3 linked regions of the Homo sapiens genome follow. The protein of the gene in region 1 interacts with the protein of each later gene in a pairwise test. Each region holds a gene or a part of one and is shown in the gene's direction. Other genes may lie near its edges.

Region 1 (6,694 bases):
GGTCGGGAGTTCAAGATCAGCCTGACCAACATGGAGAAACCTCATCTCTACTAAAAATGCAAAATTAGTCAGGAGTGGTGGCACGCGCCTGTAATCCCAGCTACTTGGGAGGCTGAGGCAGGAGAATCGCTTGAACCCTGGTGGCAGAAGTTGTGGTGAGCCAAGATTGTGCCATTGCACTCCAGCCTGGGCAACAAGAGTGAAACTCCTTCTCCAAAAAAAAAAAGAAAAAAAAAGAGAAGGGAACTCCTACACACTGTTGGTGGGAACGTAAGTTAGTACAGCCACTACTGAAAACAATATGGAGATGTCTGAAAAAAACAAAAACAGAACTACCATGTGGGCTGGGCATGGTGACTCACACCTGTAATCCCAGCACTTTGGGAGGCCAAGGCTGGTCGATCACCAGAGGTCAGAAGTTCACAATAGCCTAGCCAACATGGCAAAACCCCTTCTCTACTAAAAATACAAAATTTAGCTGGGTGTGATGGAGGGTGCCTGTAATCCCAGCTACTTGTGAGGCTGAGGCAGGAAAATCACTTGAACCTGGGAGGCAGAGGCTGCAATGAGCCGAGACCAGGGCATTGCACTCCAACCTAGACAACAAAAGCAAAACTCCGTCTCAAAAAAAAAAAAAAAGAACTACCATGTGATCCAGCAATCCCACTACCTGGAATTTATCCAAAGGAAAAGAAATCAGTATATAAAAAAGATAACCTGCATCTCCGTGTTTACTGTAGAGCCGTGTTTACAATAGCAAAGATATGGAATCAACCTAAGTGTTGATCAGGGGACAAATGAATAAAGAAAATATGATATATATACACAGTGGACTTAAGCCATAAAAAATGAAATCATGTTTACAGCATGGATGGAACTGGAGGTCATTATGTTAAGTGAATAAGCCAGACACAGAAAGGCAAATATCACATGTCCTCACTTACATGTGGGAGCTAGAAAAGTTGATCTCATGGAGGTAGAGAGTAGAATGATACCAGAGATTGGAAGGGTGTACGTGGGTGGGAGAGGTGGATGAAGAGAAGTTGGGTAATGGGTACAAACATACACTTAGGAAGAAGGGATAACTTGTAATGTTCAATAGCAGAGTAGGGTGACTGTAGTTAACAAAGTACTGTAAATTTCCATAGCTAGAAGAGAGGACTTGAAATTTTCCCAACACATAGAAATGTTAAATACTCAAAGTGATTGATACCTTAAATATCCTGACTTGATTATTGTACATTCTATGTATGAAGAAAAGCAAAATATCACATGAACTCCATAAATATGTAAAAATTTTGTGTATCAATATATTTTTTGTTTTGTTTGTTTTTTTTTTTTTTAGATGGAGTCTTGCTCTGTCACACAGGCTGGAGTGCAATGGTGTGATCTTGGCTCACTGCAACCTCTGCCTCCTGAGTTCAAGCCATTCTTGTGCCTCAGCCTCCTGAGTAGCTGGGACTACAGGCGTCCGACTCCACACCCAGCTAATTTTTGTATTTTTAGTACAGACGGGGTTTTGCCATGTTGGCCAGGCTGGTCTCGAACTCCTGACCTCAGGTGATCCTCCCGCCTTGGCCTCCCAAAGTGTTGGGATTACAGGCACAAGCCACTGTGCCCAGCCCAATTTTTTTTTCTTTTTGAGACGGGGTCTCACTCTGTCACGCAGGTTGAAGTGCAGTGGCATGATCTTGCTCACTGCAACCTCTGCTTCCTGGGTTCAAGGAATTCTTGTGCCTCAGCCTCCTGAGTAGCTGGGACTACAGGTGTGCACCACCAGACCTGGCCAATTTTTGTATTTTTAGTAGAGATGGAGTTTCAGCATGTTGCCCATGCTGGTTTCTAACTTCTGGCCTAAAGCAATCTGCCCACCTCAGCCTCCCAAAGTGCTGAGATTACAGGTGTGAGCAACTGGGCTGGGCCTAAATTAAATATTTTCAAAATTTAAAAAATACTCATTTCTAAGGATATATTTTTCCTTATATAATTTCTACAGTATTCACCACATGGAGTGCAGTGAGGCAGTTCCAGAACTCAAGGTAATAATGTAAGCATATTAATAATATTTAATTATTAACAATTAATAATTAATCAATTAATAACATATGCATATGAGATCAGCAGGAGTCACACTAAAAGCCAAAAAGCATTTCAGGTGAAAAACAGCAAGGGTAGGCCAGAAAACACAAAGAAATCTTGACTGAAAAGTCAGCAATAAAAAACACTATTGAATAAAAAGGAAGGCTCGATATACTAGGGCTGGCAGGGGAGCCAAGCAAGTAGATCCAGAGCCAGAATGACAGCAGGGACCTGGTAGGCCTTGCTTGTTATCTCCAGCAACCAGCCCCACGCTTAGCAAACAGTATTCTGCATCCTGTATGATTGCAGGTATATTCCAAATGTGGGGATGAAGGCAACTAGTATTTACAGTCCAATGCCACCAGCCATGAGGATGACCCATCTTGGCTGAAAAATAAAGACCTTAAATCTAGGAAGCGGAAGATACAACCCAGGACAGCAGGAAGGGGAGACCCGGTATGAGAAGAACTGAGGCCCAACCCAGTTTAGAGAGGAGACTGAAGGCTAAAGGAGGAAGGTTTCCCAGGAAAAAAAAAATTAGGATTTGAAAGTTGATGCTATCTTTGATAATTTGGAACAACGTAAATAAGTAGAAATGGCAGGGCCGGGCGCCGTGGCTCACGCCTGTAATCCCAGCACTTTGGGAGGCTGAGGCGGGAGGATCACCTGAGGTCGGGAGTTCGAGACCAGCCTGACTTAATATGGAGAAACCCCGTCTCTACTAAAAATACAAAATTAGACGGGCATGGTGGCTCATGCCTGTAATCCCAGCTACTTGGGAGGCTGAGGCAGGAGAATCGCTTGAACCTGGGAGGCGAAGGTTGCGGTGAGCCTAGATAGCGCCATTGCACTCCAGCCTGGGCAAGCCGAGATAGCGCCATTGCACTCCAGCCTGGGCAACAAGAGTAAAACTCCTTCTCAAAGAAAAAGTAGAAATGGCTGGGAACCGTGGCGCATGCCTGTAATCACAGCACTTTGGGAGGCCGAGGCAGGAGAATTGCTTGAGGCCAGGAGTTCCAGACCAGCCTGGGCAACATAGCAAGACCCTGTCTCTGTTTTAAAATTTAAAAATTAGCCAAGCATTGGGTGTGCGCCTGTGGTCCCAGCTACTCGGGAGGCTGAGGTGAGAAGATCGCTTCAGCCCGGGAGGTCGAGTCTGCAGTGAGCTAGGATCGCACTGCTGGGCCACAGAGCAAGACCCTGTCTCAAAACAAACAAAAAATAAATTCATGTATGTTAGCAACAATTACTATTTAATTTAAAACTTCCCCATTCCGATTCCATCCTCACCAAGCACGTTCCTTCGCCTGCAGCTTCGGTCTAGAGCCTGAGCGAGCCGAGCTGCGGATGCCAGGGGCTGGGTGGACTCCGCAGCTAAGCTACTGTAAAACACGCACCTGCTTCTACCGCGGGTGTACACATGGTTTGCCAGGGTGTGCGCGTCTTCCCAAGGGGTCTGGGGACCAAATTCCAGCTCCCGCCATCGGGAGGCACGGTAAGAGACCGTAGGGGACACAATCCCGAGCACCGCAGATGCCGAGGTCTCCGCTGCGCTCCAGTCTGTCAACAGAGGCTTCAGGACCGCGGGGTCCCTTCAAATGCCCCGCCAGTCCCAGGCCAATCACCGCGCAGCTTCTTCCGGGATCGTCGCCAATCATCGGCCGTTGCGTATTGCGGGTACAGAGGGGTAAGTGAAGCTTCGGGCCCTTACATCTTTCTTGAAGGCAAGAAGCCTCTCCTCTACTTCCCAGACACCCCGCCTCCCCCACTAGAAAAAGCAGCCGAAGCGGCTTTATTTAAGGGCAAGTGGGACGATGAGGCCAGAGAAGTCAGAAAGGCTCCATATTTGATATGGTCAAATAATGGCGCCCTTAAGAGCAGCCTGTGACAATTGAAGGGTGGTCGCCATATTTTCAGAAGGCACCTTCCGGGTCCCTTAACCCGGGTGTCTATGTCCAAGCGGCCATGAAGTGAATAAACACTGAGGAATTATATTTGTCCCTATCAGAATCCTCGAATCCCTAGCAGCCAGTCCCTGCTACTTCGGTTGCCTCGGCTGCGTTCGGACGCCACGGCTGGGCGGGGCCGCCCTTCCTGTGGACAACGACAGCTGAGGCCGGGAGCGGGGAGGCGGCGGCTCCAGGGACCTGGCGGCCGCCGATCGGGGCTGCGAGGCCCCATGGCGCCGCCCCCAGCCCCGCTCCTGGCGCCGAGGCCCGGGGAGACCCGGCCTGGTTGCAGGAAGCCCGGGACTGTGAGCTTCGCGGACGTGGCCGTGTACTTCTCCCCGGAGGAGTGGGGCTGTCTGCGGCCCGCGCAGAGGGCTCTGTACCGGGACGTGATGCAGGAGACCTACGGCCACCTGGGCGCGCTCGGTGAGAGCCCCGGGTCCGAGCCCCCTCCTCCTTCACCGGGTTCACAGGGGAGATGATGTAGAAGGGCCGAGAGGACTGTGAGCCCTAATCCCGCACTCTTGCACCAACACCAGCAGCCACCTCCCGTTCCCAGGGCTTCAGGTACCCCCTCGGGAGTGTTTTCACCCGCATCCATTTCATTCAGGCAGCAGCACTGCAGCCCCTTCCAGGTTGAGTATAAGCTCCGAGGGGGTGCCCTCAGCCTGGAGGGGAATGCCATCTTCCCACGATGGCCTCTCAGGCCCGCGCTGTGATCCCTGTTCTCTCCCAGGATTCCCAGGCCCCAAACCAGCCCTCATCTCTTGGATGGAACAGGAGAGTGAGGCTTGGAGCCCCGCCGCCCAGGATCCTGAGAAGGGGGAAAGACTGGGAGGAGCTCGGAGAGGTGAGGGATAGTCCCGGGTCCCCCCACTTGGTTTTCCAGGGCTTCCTGTCTAGCAGAGTTTCTTTTCAGGCCCCCACTTCCAGCATCCCTAAAGAAATTCAACTGTGTTGGGTACTAGAGGAGTAAAGAAGGCAGACCTGGTACAAAGTTTTCAGAACATGGGACAGCGGTCCTGTGAGGACTGGGAGCCCAGTCCAACCAGGCACTCCAGCCTGGGTGACAGAGTGAGACTCCGTCTCAAAAATAAATAAATAAATAAATAAATAAATAAATAAATAAATAAATAATAGCCCCTGCTTCCTGAGCACTTCCTAAGTGCTTAACATGCATCTACTCAGCTAAACCAGTAACGCTGTGAAGTCAAAAGCCATTATTATTCCCATTTGATGCATAAGGAACCAAGGCTCAGATAAGGCACTTTTAGGAGATCTGAATCCTGTTTACCTTGTTCTAAAGCCTGTGTGTTAATCACTGGACAGAACTTCCCTCACTGCCTTAAGTGAAAAGCATTCTATAACCTGAGACAGTCTGTGCAAAAGTGTTTGTAAGTGTAACTTAATTCCGGTTTCCCAGGAGATGTCCCAAACAGGAAGGAAGAGGAACCGGAGGAAGTCCCAAGAGCCAAAGGGCCTAGAAAGGCTCCTGTGAAGGAGAGTCCTGAAGTGCTGGTGGAACGCAACCCTGACCCAGCTATTAGCGTGGCCCCGGCACGGGCACAGCCACCCAAAAATGCTGCCTGGGACCCGACCACAGGAGCACAGCCCCCGGCACCCATACCCAGCATGGATGCTCAGGCCGGCCAGCGGCGCCACGTGTGCACGGACTGCGGCCGCCGCTTCACCTACCCCTCACTGCTGGTCAGCCACAGGCGCATGCACTCGGGGGAGCGGCCTTTCCCCTGCCCCGAGTGTGGCATGCGCTTCAAGAGGAAGTTCGCAGTGGAAGCGCACCAGTGGATCCACCGCTCCTGCTCCGGGGGGCGGCGGGGCCGGAGGCCTGGGATCCGGGCTGTGCCTCGGGCCCCCGTCCGAGGTGACCGGGACCCGCCTGTGCTCTTCCGGCACTACCCAGACATCTTCGAGGAGTGCGGCTGAGCGGCACCGCAGGCTGGAGTTGAGCCTGACCTTGGCACGAAGGACTGACGGATCCCTGAGGTGGGCCACTGAGTCGGGGACTCCGGAACTGAAATTCATGCCCTGGGCTTTCCTCAAGGATCCCTCAAGTTTCCAACTTGTAAAAAGAAAAGTGCCTGTAAAGATTCGAATAGATTAGACTTGCCACCCATCTCCCCAGTCTTTTGTTTAACAAAAAAAAAAAAAAAAAAAAAAAAAAAGAAGAGAGTGAGACCCTGGACTCATTTCAAAGTGTTATCTGAAGATCAGGTGCAACAGAGACCTTTATATCATCTCAGGAACTAGCCACTCCTTATCTATTTCAGATGCAGATGCTGAGGGGGACCAGGGCCTGGGGAGGGGACCTACATGGAGGGCGTGGTCAAACCCTGGCTAATTGTCATCAGCAGGGGACCCAGACACTGGAGTGGATGGGAGTAGAATAGATGCAGGTGGCACAAATCCAGCCTCTGTTGGGAGACCAAGGAGGGAGGATCGTTTGAGTCCAGGAGTTCAGACCAGCCTGAGCAACAGGCTATCTAGCGATATCTAGATATCTAGGATATCACTATCTAGAGATAGTGAAATCCTATCTCTACAAAAAAAAAAAAAAAAAATGAACCAGGCATAGTGGCACATCGTGCCTGTGGTCCCAGCCACTTGGGAGGCTGAGGTGGGAGGACTGCTTGAGCCCAGGAGTTCAA
Region 2 (3,001 bases), on another chromosome or scaffold:
TAACAGCTGAGTGAGGTGGAGCCTATGATGGCTGCCATTTCACTGAGGCTCAGAGAATCAGAGGTCTCTCCAGGGTCACTCAGGGCTGGTCCGGGACATTGAAGCTGGGTCTTCTCTGCTTCCGGTACTTGTGTTACTGCACTTTTGCTGTTGATTCTCAAATGTCAGCCTGCAACCAGTCCCCCGGAAGTGTTCATTAACGCACAGACTGCTGGGCCTTCTCCCCAGGGTGTCTCAGTTGGGTAGGGAAGGAGGAGGGCTGAGAATTTGTTTTTTTGTTTGTTTGTTTAGTTTTTGCTTTTCTTTTGAGTCAAGGTATGGCTCTGTGGCCCAGGCTGGAGTGCAGTGGCATGATCTCGGCTCACTGCAACCTCCACCTCCCGGGCTAAAGCCATCCTCCCACCTCAGCCTCCCAAGTATTAATAGCTGAGACTAGAGGCATGCACCACCGCACCCGGCTAATTTTTGTATTTTTTGTAAAGACACAGTTTCACCATGTTGCCCAGGGTGGTCTCGAACTTGTGAGCTCAAGTGATTTGCCTGCCTCAGCCTCCCAAAGTGTTGGGATTACAGGTGTGAGCCACTGCGCCCAGCCTGAGAATTTGTATTTCTGTCAGGTTCCCAGGCAGTGCTGATGTCGCTGGTCCCAGGACCAACACTTTGAGAACCACTGCACTGAGCCCTGCCATGTTCTGTCTCCCACCTTGACACTGAATACTGCCTGAAATAAGTGACTGATCAACTGAGGCTTGGGAGAGTCTTGATTTAAATGTCAGAAAAGAAGTTTCCCTTTTGATTCATGCCAGTGGGCAGCGAGGGCCATGAATTAAGATCCTCCCTTCATGGTGGAGAGATGCTGTTGGTCCTCCATATCTCAGAGGCACGATTAGCTGCACCGCGTGTTTTCTGTGGAACTCCCTGTCTCCCAGCAGCTGGGGCCCCAGCGAATAATCAGGGGGAGATGTGCTTTGCAGCTTATGGAGGTATTCAAGGCCAGCTCTCCCCATGGGTAGAATCAGTGGCTGTTGACATGATAGAGTTTGGGAGCCTCAGAAGAATGCCCGTTTTATTGCATTCCTGGTCAGTACCCTCTCAAAGGGGCCCCTAGGGTCTCTCTCCAGCTGCTCTTCTGAAATGAGGGTTCCCCTGGGAGGGGACAGGTAATACTTGCCTAACTCCTTATGATAGATCACATCAGCTGAGAGCCTTGCCCACAGAGGAGGAGCCAGGGGGCAGCCTAGGGGAATGATGAGCGGTTGCTGCAGACAAGGAGAGGGCTCAGAAAAGGGAGGAGTTATGCCAGATCCAAATGCCAGTTTCATCTGAGTTCCCTCTGCCTGCTGGTGAAGACTGCACTAGCCGGCCCTCCTTCTGGAGCCGACCTTCCCTGGCTTCCTGACATCCTGAAAGTTCGGCCTCCTTTCTAGGGCTCATCCCCGAGCCCTGTCTTCCAGGATTGTCCCTTTCACTGTCTTCTTAGCTTTTCTTTCTTTTGCCCCAGGCTTTTTGGGCAAGACGGTCTCTGCGCATCCTGTGACAAGCGGATTCGTGCCTATGAGATGACAATGCGGGTGAAAGACAAAGTGTATCACCTGGAATGTTTCAAATGCGCCGCCTGTCAGAAGCATTTCTGTGTAGGTGACAGATACCTCCTCATCAACTCTGACATAGTGTGCGAACAGGACATCTACGAGTGGACTAAGATCAATGGGATGATATAGGCCCGAGTCCCCGGGCATCTTTGGGGAGGTGTTCACTGAAGACGCCGTCTCCATGGCATCTTCGTCTTCACTCTTAGGCACTTTGGGGGTTTGAGGGTGGGGTAAGGGATTTCTTAGGGGATGGTAGACCTTTATTGGGTATCAAGACATAGCATCCAAGTGGCATAATTCAGGGGCTGACACTTCAAGGTGACAGAAGGACCAGCCCTTGAGGGAGAACTTATGGCCACAGCCCATCCATAGTAACTGACATGATTAGCAGAAGAAAGGAACATTTAGGGGCAAGCAGGCGCTGTGCTATCATGATGGAATTTCATATCTACAGATAGAGAGTTGTTGTGTACAGACTTGTTGTGACTTTGACGCTTGCGAACTAGAGATGTGCAATTGATTTCTTTTCTTCCTGGCTTTTTAACTCCCCTGTTTCAATCACTGTCCTCCACACAAGGGAAGGACAGAAAGGAGAGTGGCCATTCTTTTTTTCTTGGCCCCCTTCCCAAGGCCTTAAGCTTTGGACCCAAGGAAAACTGCATGGAGACGCATTTCGGTTGAGAATGGAAACCACAACTTTTAACCAAACAATTATTTAAAGCAATGCTGATGAATCACTGTTTTTAGACACCTTCATTTTGAGGGGAGGAGTTCCACAGATTGTTTCTATACAAATATAAATCTTAAAAAGTTGTTCAACTATTTTATTATCCTAGATTATATCAAAGTATTTGTCGTGTGTAGAAAAAAAAACAGCTCTGCAGGCTTAATAAAAATGACAGACTGAAATACAGTGTTGTTTATTTGATTACGACTTATAATTTGGGATGGCGGGGAAATGCTCTGCTTTTTCTTTTCTAAAGGAGAAGCAAATAAGCAATTTACTCTTAGGTCAAATAAAAACTTCTGTGTATTGCAAGGGTTTGTATGAGGCAGGCACATTTCTATATTACTGGCAATTATGTAACAGGTCATCATGTAGCTCAGAGGAATGTAGAATAATTAAATTGTTATTGTACAATATGCATTTCACTTCAGCATTGTATGGAGTGAGTGGAAGGCAAGATCATTGCCTTTGGGAAACTTGTAACCTAGAAAGGACACAAATACATAAAGCAGATTCCCTTTGGGAGAGAAGGTAATTACCTAGTTTGAAATGTGGCAAAGATGCTGAGCTTGACACTTCGATTTTCCAAGACGGGTGTCTCAGGGTGTTTTATGACAAGTGGTTAAGAGGACCTTTACTTTGCGGATTTAAAGCAGGCACCTTGGTTTGTGTGTTTGCCTTC
Region 3 (7,398 bases), on another chromosome or scaffold:
ATATAACCTGACCCTTGTCCGTACCCTTGCTAGAAAGTACATCTGTGCTTTCTAGAGTTGTTAGGACACAATCAGGTGGCGACCCTGAGCTGGATACAACAGGGCCCAGAGGCAAAGTGGTGATAAATAGAAGTAGTCAGTGGAATTCTTCTAGTGTGGCCTCTCTTTGCAACCTTGGACCCATTTTGTTTGCCTGTCACCCATCCCTTCCACCACTATGACATGAAACTAATAAGCTGACCTTGTCTGGGAGAGCAGGTATATCTTCCTTAGGGACTTTCAGACAACCCTCCACTGACACTGCCAGCTCATCTTCCCCTCCTGTTGGCAGGTCAGCCTGTCCCCGGAAGACCTGCAGGCCCTGGGGAGTGCCATCAGTATGGTCACCCAGCACGGCAGCACCACCCTCACCATCCCCAGTCCTGATGCCGACCTGGCCACATCTGGCACACATACAGTCACCATGGTCAGCGCCGATGGCACCCAGACGCAGCCCGTATGACCAGGCGGTTTGCTTGGGGTTTCTTATTTTGTCATTCCTTTCCATGGGGCGGGCATTAAAGTGCAGCCTAAACTAGTCAAGTCTTCTTACCAGGACAAAGATTCCCCACAAAAGAAGGGGTCTTCCCCACAGTTCCTGGGCCATGAGCAGCTCTTACCTTTAAAAGCAGTTGAATGGAGGTCAAGAGACACTTTCTAAATCTCAATTCAACCCTGATTTGTTGTGCAACCTTAGGCAAATCACTTTTCCATGGACTTCTGTCCATTTTCAAGTGAGGGGATTAAAATATCTCTGGAATTTTTTACAGCTCTGTCCTTCTGTGATTCAAAATCCCTAAATTAAATTGGGCTCTAAGTTGGGAGGAAACCCAGCCTTACTTAGCTCTGAGCCTCAGGCTAATTAATCTGACCCATACGGTTTTATCCATTCTCTTCTGGGTTGTTCCCAGCACCTTAATTGGAGGGATGTTTATTTGGATTGTGGGGAGGGAGAGTATACTGCAGGTGGAATGGAAGACCTCCTTTTGTCTTTCAGGTCACAATCATTACCTCTGGGGCTGTGGTGGCTGAGGACTCAAGTGTAGCATCTCTTCGTCATCAACAGGTGGCACTGTTGGCCACAGCCAACGGAACGCACATTGCAGTGCAGGTGAGTAGAGATCTGGGAGGAAAGGGGATCCCACGGCCAGAGAAGTCAACAAGGAATAAAGGGGAATTAGATGAGGATCTTGAAGAGAAGGGCATCTGACTCAAAAAGAGCCCATTTCAGAGGACAGATCCCTTTCCTCCTGCATCCATGCATCTGTCTCAGGCTCGCTCTTGGCTGAGGCAGAATGTTGAAGCCTCTTCTGGCCTTCAGGATAACTCCGATGGCAGTCCACCTGTGGTCCAAGCCCTTCATCATTTTGTGTCTCTGTTTCTTCATCTGGAAATGAAGGAGGCTGACGTAGATGATCACCACGGTTCTCTTCAGCCAGTCCTTCCTCCGTGAGCAAGTGGGTCTCTCTGACCCTGGCTATTCCAGGGCCCCCTGGCCATGCCTAGCCTAATAGGACTCTTCATCCGTGAACTTCATGTTTATTGGAGCCCTACTAAGTGCTCAGCGTGTGGCACTGGGTAGATGGGGGAGAGTCAAAAAAAAAAGTAGGCCACATATTACTAACACTGGAATCTAGCAGGGAGGGTCTCACTGTCTCCTTCCTTCTGCACCCCCTTCCCCACAGCTGGAGGAACAGCAGACCTTAGAGGAGGCCATCAATGTGGCCACTGCGGCCATGCAGCAAGGGGCTGTGACCCTGGAGACAACAGTGTCGGAGAGTGGCTGCTGAGTCCAAGAGGGCTGGGTCCCACACCATGCTGGAGGAAGTGCCATCTGCATGGCCACTCTTGCCCCCAAGGGCCCAGGCTGTGGCTGACACATAGAAGGTGGCCACATAGGTCTCTGGGGTGAGAAGACAGCAAGAAAACTGCCTAACTGAAGGGAATGGGGGCCCTGCTCAAGAAGGGGGCCAGGCAGCTGGAATCAGGGGAGTGCATCATCCTCGGGAGCTGACAACAGCCAGGCTACACCAGGGCACCCGCCTCTCAAAATCAGCTGGGCGCCCACTCTCCTCCTAAAGAACACCCTTCTGGCCCTCAGTCTGTTCCCCTTCTCAGGTAGAGATTGGGGCTGCTATGGGGACTGGCCCTGTAGGGTTGAGCCACAGACAGCTCTTCAGCCCAGTAGCAGTGGAGCAGGCCCTGTCCTGCCCTCCCAGCAATAACCACCTCCCTGGAGGCCAGCTGAGATGCCTGGCTACTTGGCACCAGGGACTTCCTGACACCACAGTCAATTAATTCCTCAGGGGCCTGTGGCTGAAGAAAAGGTGCCCAGCCCCCACCACTCCTCAGCTGCCCCCCAACCTCTCTATGGCAGAGAGGCAGGGAGTGGCCCTGTACATAGACTGCTGGGGATTGGGTTTGATTTGTTTTGTTTTTTTTAATTCCATTTTGATAATTTTTTTCCTGCTCTGGGTGGTGGTGGCACATGGATGAATGAGTATTTAATAAAAGTTCCAAATTTCCACCTGGGTCCCTCCATCCTTTCAGCTCTAGGCCCGGGTGGCAGGGTTGGTCAAATCAGGCTATCAGCCCTGTCTCCCTGGCACAAACCCCACTCAGCCTTGGTGCCAGAGTGGTGGGGCTGGCCTGCCAGGGACACAGGTGGGAAGGAAGCCCAGTATAAGATAAAGCCCTGAGGAGCTGCTGGTGGCTTCTTGCCCACAGCTGAGCAGGTGGGCTCCAGGGTAGCCAAACAGGACCAGGGTGACCGCTGCTTCCAGGCTCTGGCTGAATCTCAGGCCTCATGTGATTGAGCTGGGGGAACTCTTTTCCTGCCTTTTCTTGTGAAACGTAGTCAGAGCCCCTCCAACCCAGCCACCCCCAAATCACACAGTCAGCTTCTCCAAGAGGGCAAAGCCCCAGGTTAGAGTGAGGCTGGGGGACACCTTTGCCAAGGTTACTGAGATTCAAGGAGCAGAGTCTGATGCCTCTGGAGCTGAAGTCTTGGCTCTATTACCCAGCTCTGGGGGTGCCCACCTAGGTGCCTAGGACTGTGCTGTGGGATTTCAAAGCCACAATCAGACCCCACTGAAAAGTGAGTTGGTGAGACCAGATCAGCTCCAGGGGGAAGAAGGGATACAGGGGAAGGCACTTGATGGGAAGAAGCTCTGGGTTTGACTCTGCCTACACAGGAACATTGCAGGGATTGGTGGTGCCTCTTTTCCTCTCTCTGCTGTGATGGATATGCCCCAACCCCTTCCTGCCTCCTAGGATTGGAACCCCCTCCTCTGATCCAGGCATCCTCTCCCAGGATGCCTAGAAAGCTCCCATTTACTCTTGCCACCAGCTCCTTGGGAAGAGAGGGGCGGGGGCGTGCTTCCAGGCAGGAGGTATTCCCAGCACCTTACTTGGAGGGATTTTTATTTGGCTTAGGGGGTAGGGGGAGGTGTCTTAGAATTGGCCTGAGCAGATGTCTTCAACATCTGTGACCACCATTCCTGGTGTGGGCGTGTCCCAGTCCTTTTGGACACTGGATCTGAAGAAAGGAAGCACTGACATGGAGGGCCCTGAATCCCAAGCCTGCTGCTGCTGGGACCCTTAAAGTTGAGGTGCACCACAAGGCTCACCCCCATGTGTTTCAGGAAGTTTCCAGTGTCTTCAGGGCTACTGGGGCTAGAGTGGGCAGTGCTCTGAGTACCGTTTAGAGCCAGTGCTGAGGGGATAGGGAGCCAGCAAGTCAAGTGCCACATCCTGACCTGGAGAGGTGCCCTGGCCCATTTCCTTCTCCAGCTTTGTGATGTTGCCTTTGTTTCCTTCCACTTGGATGGAGTCCCACCACCATGGTAATGTTAAGTAGCACCAAAAGCTCTACCCAGAGCCTACTATGTGCTTTACGTCCATTCTCAGACATTCTTACAACACGGAGGCATTTTTCCTGCTTTACAAATGAGGAAACTGCTCAAGGAGGTTAAGTAACTTACCCAAGGCCTCCTATGTTGAACTAGGACTGGACCTTTACTCTGTCTGACCCCAATATCAGGATGAGCTTGCTTTTTCCCTCAGCAAGCTGCGTCTGGGAGCCCTGGAAGGCTCCAGAAGCCTCCGGGTCTGAGGAGGCTTCTAAAAGGGCCTCACATGCCCCGGGAGCCACGTGGATACAGAACGAGGGTTCCCGCTCTCGGAGAGTTGGTCCCCAGTTCCCATGCAGGGAGTGGAGCCTCTGAGCACTGCCAGAACAACAGGCAGGGTTCTCGACAGCACAGAGCCTCACGCAATGTGCAGGCAGGTGGTGCTCTCGCTCCACCACGGCACCTCTGCGGTCTCTGCAGCCGTTTGCATTTCCTGAAACCGGATCTTAGTGTCAGAGCCGCCCCCAGCCGGGCGGGCGCCTCAGCCATGGCCCTGCGCAAGGAACTGCTCAAGTCCATCTGGTACGCCTTTACCGCGCTGGACGTGGAGAAGAGTGGCAAAGTCTCCAAGTCCCAGCTCAAGGTGAGGGGCACCCGGGACCCGGGGGAGGACGGCAGATGCACCACACCAGCCCCTGCCGCCTGGGAGCCAGGTGTGGACACTGTGCCACTCCAGGGGCACCCAGCCATCCAGCGTCCCGGGCCTGGGGTCGGGGGGCTGGTCCTGGGTAACTGGGCCAACGTAGCCTGGTAGATGCCGCTGCCCACCCTCCAGAGACCTAGTGAAGTGTGTGCAGAAACCTTGCGCAGAACTGGGCCCCACAACTGGAGGCCAGGAGGTTCTGAGGGCCATTATGGGGTTCTGAGGGCCAGGAGCCAGGCCACATCCCAGACTCTGTGTGATGAGCACACACACCTCCACAGAGTCATGCTTGGGCACGCAGTGTGCTCTTTCTTGCTGCTTCCTCCTGACTTTCAAGAGAAACAGTTAGCCAGTGCTTGGCAGTCATTTCCTCTGGAGCTGAGAGAGGCATAAAGGGGCCGCCCCCAGTCCCAAACCTGTCTGGCCTGTCTAACCCTGCCCGCCAGGTGGGACAGAGCTGCGGAGTGGGTGAGGACTGAGGACCCTATTATACTGCTACGCAGCTCACCCCCCTATCCACCACACATATCAGGTTGGGAAACTTACCTTAGGCCTTGAGACCTCAGGTAGGGAAGGGGGAGAATCTAAGCCCAGGAAAATCCCAATCAATGATTGTCCTGAAGTCAATCATCTGGCCTAGACAATTTCTGGGAGGCCAAGGAGTTTTTCTCTCTCTTCCTCTAGTCCTCCAGTAGTGCTGCCTTCCCTACCCTAGTTAGTGGGGAGGAAGCAAGGCCCTCAGCCACTAGAATCAGCGAACACTGGGGGAAAGGAGCAAGGTAGGCCTCAGCTCTCTAGGACCTGCCATAGGGGTGCCTTCGTTCACTCTGCAAGTACTTGAGTGCCCCTCGTGAGGCTCTGTGCCTGGCATGTGGCTAGGCACTAAACTGGTGTCTCCCTGCCCCATCCTCCAAAGGAGACGTGTGGTCTCAAGGAAACCTCCATTCTTAATGACCGAGGTAGAGGGTGCTGGATACCTGAGAGATGAATGGGACAGAACAGTTATTGTGCCCCACCACCGTTCCAACCCCCTACTTTACTGAACTTGGATGTGAGGAACTTGAATATCCCAAACTGGTCCTATGTTAAATTCCTTACCTGGATTTGTGAGCATCTAATAGATGATTTCACTCCCCCAGGAAGGAGAGCCCACTACTATCTTTTGTCACCTAGGGAGAACCTCCTAACAGGCAGATTCTTCCTTACATCCTATTTAAATCTCTTGTATTGCAGATCATGTCATTTGGTTGGGTCCTCAGTATAAATGGAAAAAAGTCGATCATCCAAAATCCATTTCTGCAAACTCTGTGTCCCACCCCTACCTCCCACCCTGTCCCTTTAATATCTTGCCAGACAATACCAGCCCCCGTGGCTTTTTGCTTCCAGGGTAACATTTTCCACTTCTGTATTACCTGTGGCCACTGAGACCTCTCCAGGCTCTCTCTGCCCTTCACATGGAAAGTACAGCCTTTAAGTGGCTCCCCTTTTCCTGGTGCCATCAGCCAGTAAAGCCTCCTAGCTTGAGCCTCTGTCTTGCCCTCTAAAAGGGCCACTACCCACTCCCTCATCCCCACAGGTTGCGTATTTCTAGGGAAATACTCCATGGAGAGCTTGCATGCTTGAACTGTCCACTGTCTGTACCTCATCACAGCTCATATTGAACCTACTGCCAGCAACATCTCTGGTCACACAGGATCAATTATAGAGTTCCCTCCTACTTGACAGAAAACTTGTCAACTCTGGAAACCTGGGCTAACAGTGGGAGTCTCAGGGGCCAAGTGGGGGTGGGGCGGAAATGGCGGGGCTCCTTTCAAGCCCATAATAGTGAATATTGGAAGAGGAGGAAGTAGTGATAGTGTTGGGGGGCGGGGATTCCAGCAAAGCAAAGGAGTAATAGAGAAGTGGTCAAAAGGCAAAGGAGGAAGCAGACGAGAGAGTTATACAAGCAGGGCCCACCTCTCCCCAGAAAAGACTTGGGGATGAGGGAAAAGACCTTGGAGTCAATCTGGTTTTTTGTTGTTGTTTTAGAGATGAGATCTTGTTCTATCACTCATGCTGGAGTGCAGTGGTGCAGTCATAGCTCACGACAGCCTCAAACTCCTGGGTTCAAGCGATCTTCCTACTTCAGCCTCCTGAGTAGCTGGGACTACAGGCACATGCCACCACGCCTGGCTAATTTTTTTATTTTTTATTTTTTAGAGCCTGAGTCTCATTATGTTGCCCCGGCTGGTTTCAGACTTCTGGCCTCAAGTGATCCTCTGGCTTCTGCCTCCTGAGTAGCTGGAATTATAGTCTTGAGCCACCTCACTGGGCTGGTTACTAAAACCATCCCTAGCGTTAGGGTCCTGGGTTGGAACCTGGCAAGAGACCTGCACTAGCCCAGGGCAAGATGTGTCGGTGCGTGACATTTGCCACTTCTCCCCTAATGTGTTGGTAGACGGGCTCCCAGTGGCTGTCCTGGGCAAACCCACGATGAGGCCAGAGGGTAGGAGGAAGAACAGCACGTCCTCTGAGAAAAGCCCAAGGAGTAGGGTTGTTTCTCCTGGAAAAGAGAAGGCTTGAGGGAAAAACCAGATACTTCTTTCTCTCTTTGAATTCTTGTAGAAAGTACAATGGCTTCATCCAGTTGGGTTGAGAACAGAGAAAGTAAACCAATAGGAATGGCACTCCTGCCCAGGATGGATTTAGGTTGAACACAAAACTTCCCAGGAGTTGAGGGCTGTGAGTTCTTGCAAGGTTCCCAGAACCGCCTCTAAAAACCTTTGGAAGGTAGCCATCCTGACAGAGGGCTATAGAGAGGGGAGC

Evidence for each region. The genes of interacting proteins can lie anywhere in the genome.
Region 2: the proteins of ZNF688 (region 1) and LMO2 interact in binary tests that used the Homo sapiens proteins (3 or more experiments, as listed by UniProt).
Region 3: the proteins of ZNF688 (region 1) and DEF6 interact in binary tests that used the Homo sapiens proteins (3 or more experiments, as listed by UniProt).

What each region holds. Positions count from the first base shown.
Region 1 is NC_000016.10:30,569,194-30,575,887, reverse strand, and holds ZNF688 (zinc finger protein 688), read left to right. Parts: upstream 1-4,173; 5' UTR 4,174-4,258; coding exon 4,259-4,454; intron 4,455-4,460; exon of another isoform or gene 4,461-4,663; intron 4,664-4,764; coding exon 4,765-4,878; intron 4,879-5,451; coding exon 5,452-5,972; 3' UTR 5,973-6,162; downstream 6,163-6,694. UniProt on the Homo sapiens protein: May be involved in transcriptional regulation.
Region 2 is NC_000011.10:33,858,076-33,861,076, reverse strand, and holds the end of LMO2 (rhombotin-2), read left to right. Parts: intron 1-1,501; coding exon 1,502-1,721; 3' UTR 1,722-2,501; downstream 2,502-3,001. UniProt on the Homo sapiens protein: Acts with TAL1/SCL to regulate red blood cell development. Also acts with LDB1 to maintain erythroid precursors in an immature state.
Region 3 is NC_000006.12:35,293,420-35,300,817, forward strand, and holds the start of DEF6 (differentially expressed in FDCP 6 homolog), read left to right. Parts: upstream 1-4,398; 5' UTR 4,399-4,437; coding exon 4,438-4,533; intron 4,534-7,398. Other genes in the region: ZNF76 (zinc finger protein 76), read left to right, coding at 332-496, 1,037-1,150, 1,361-1,492.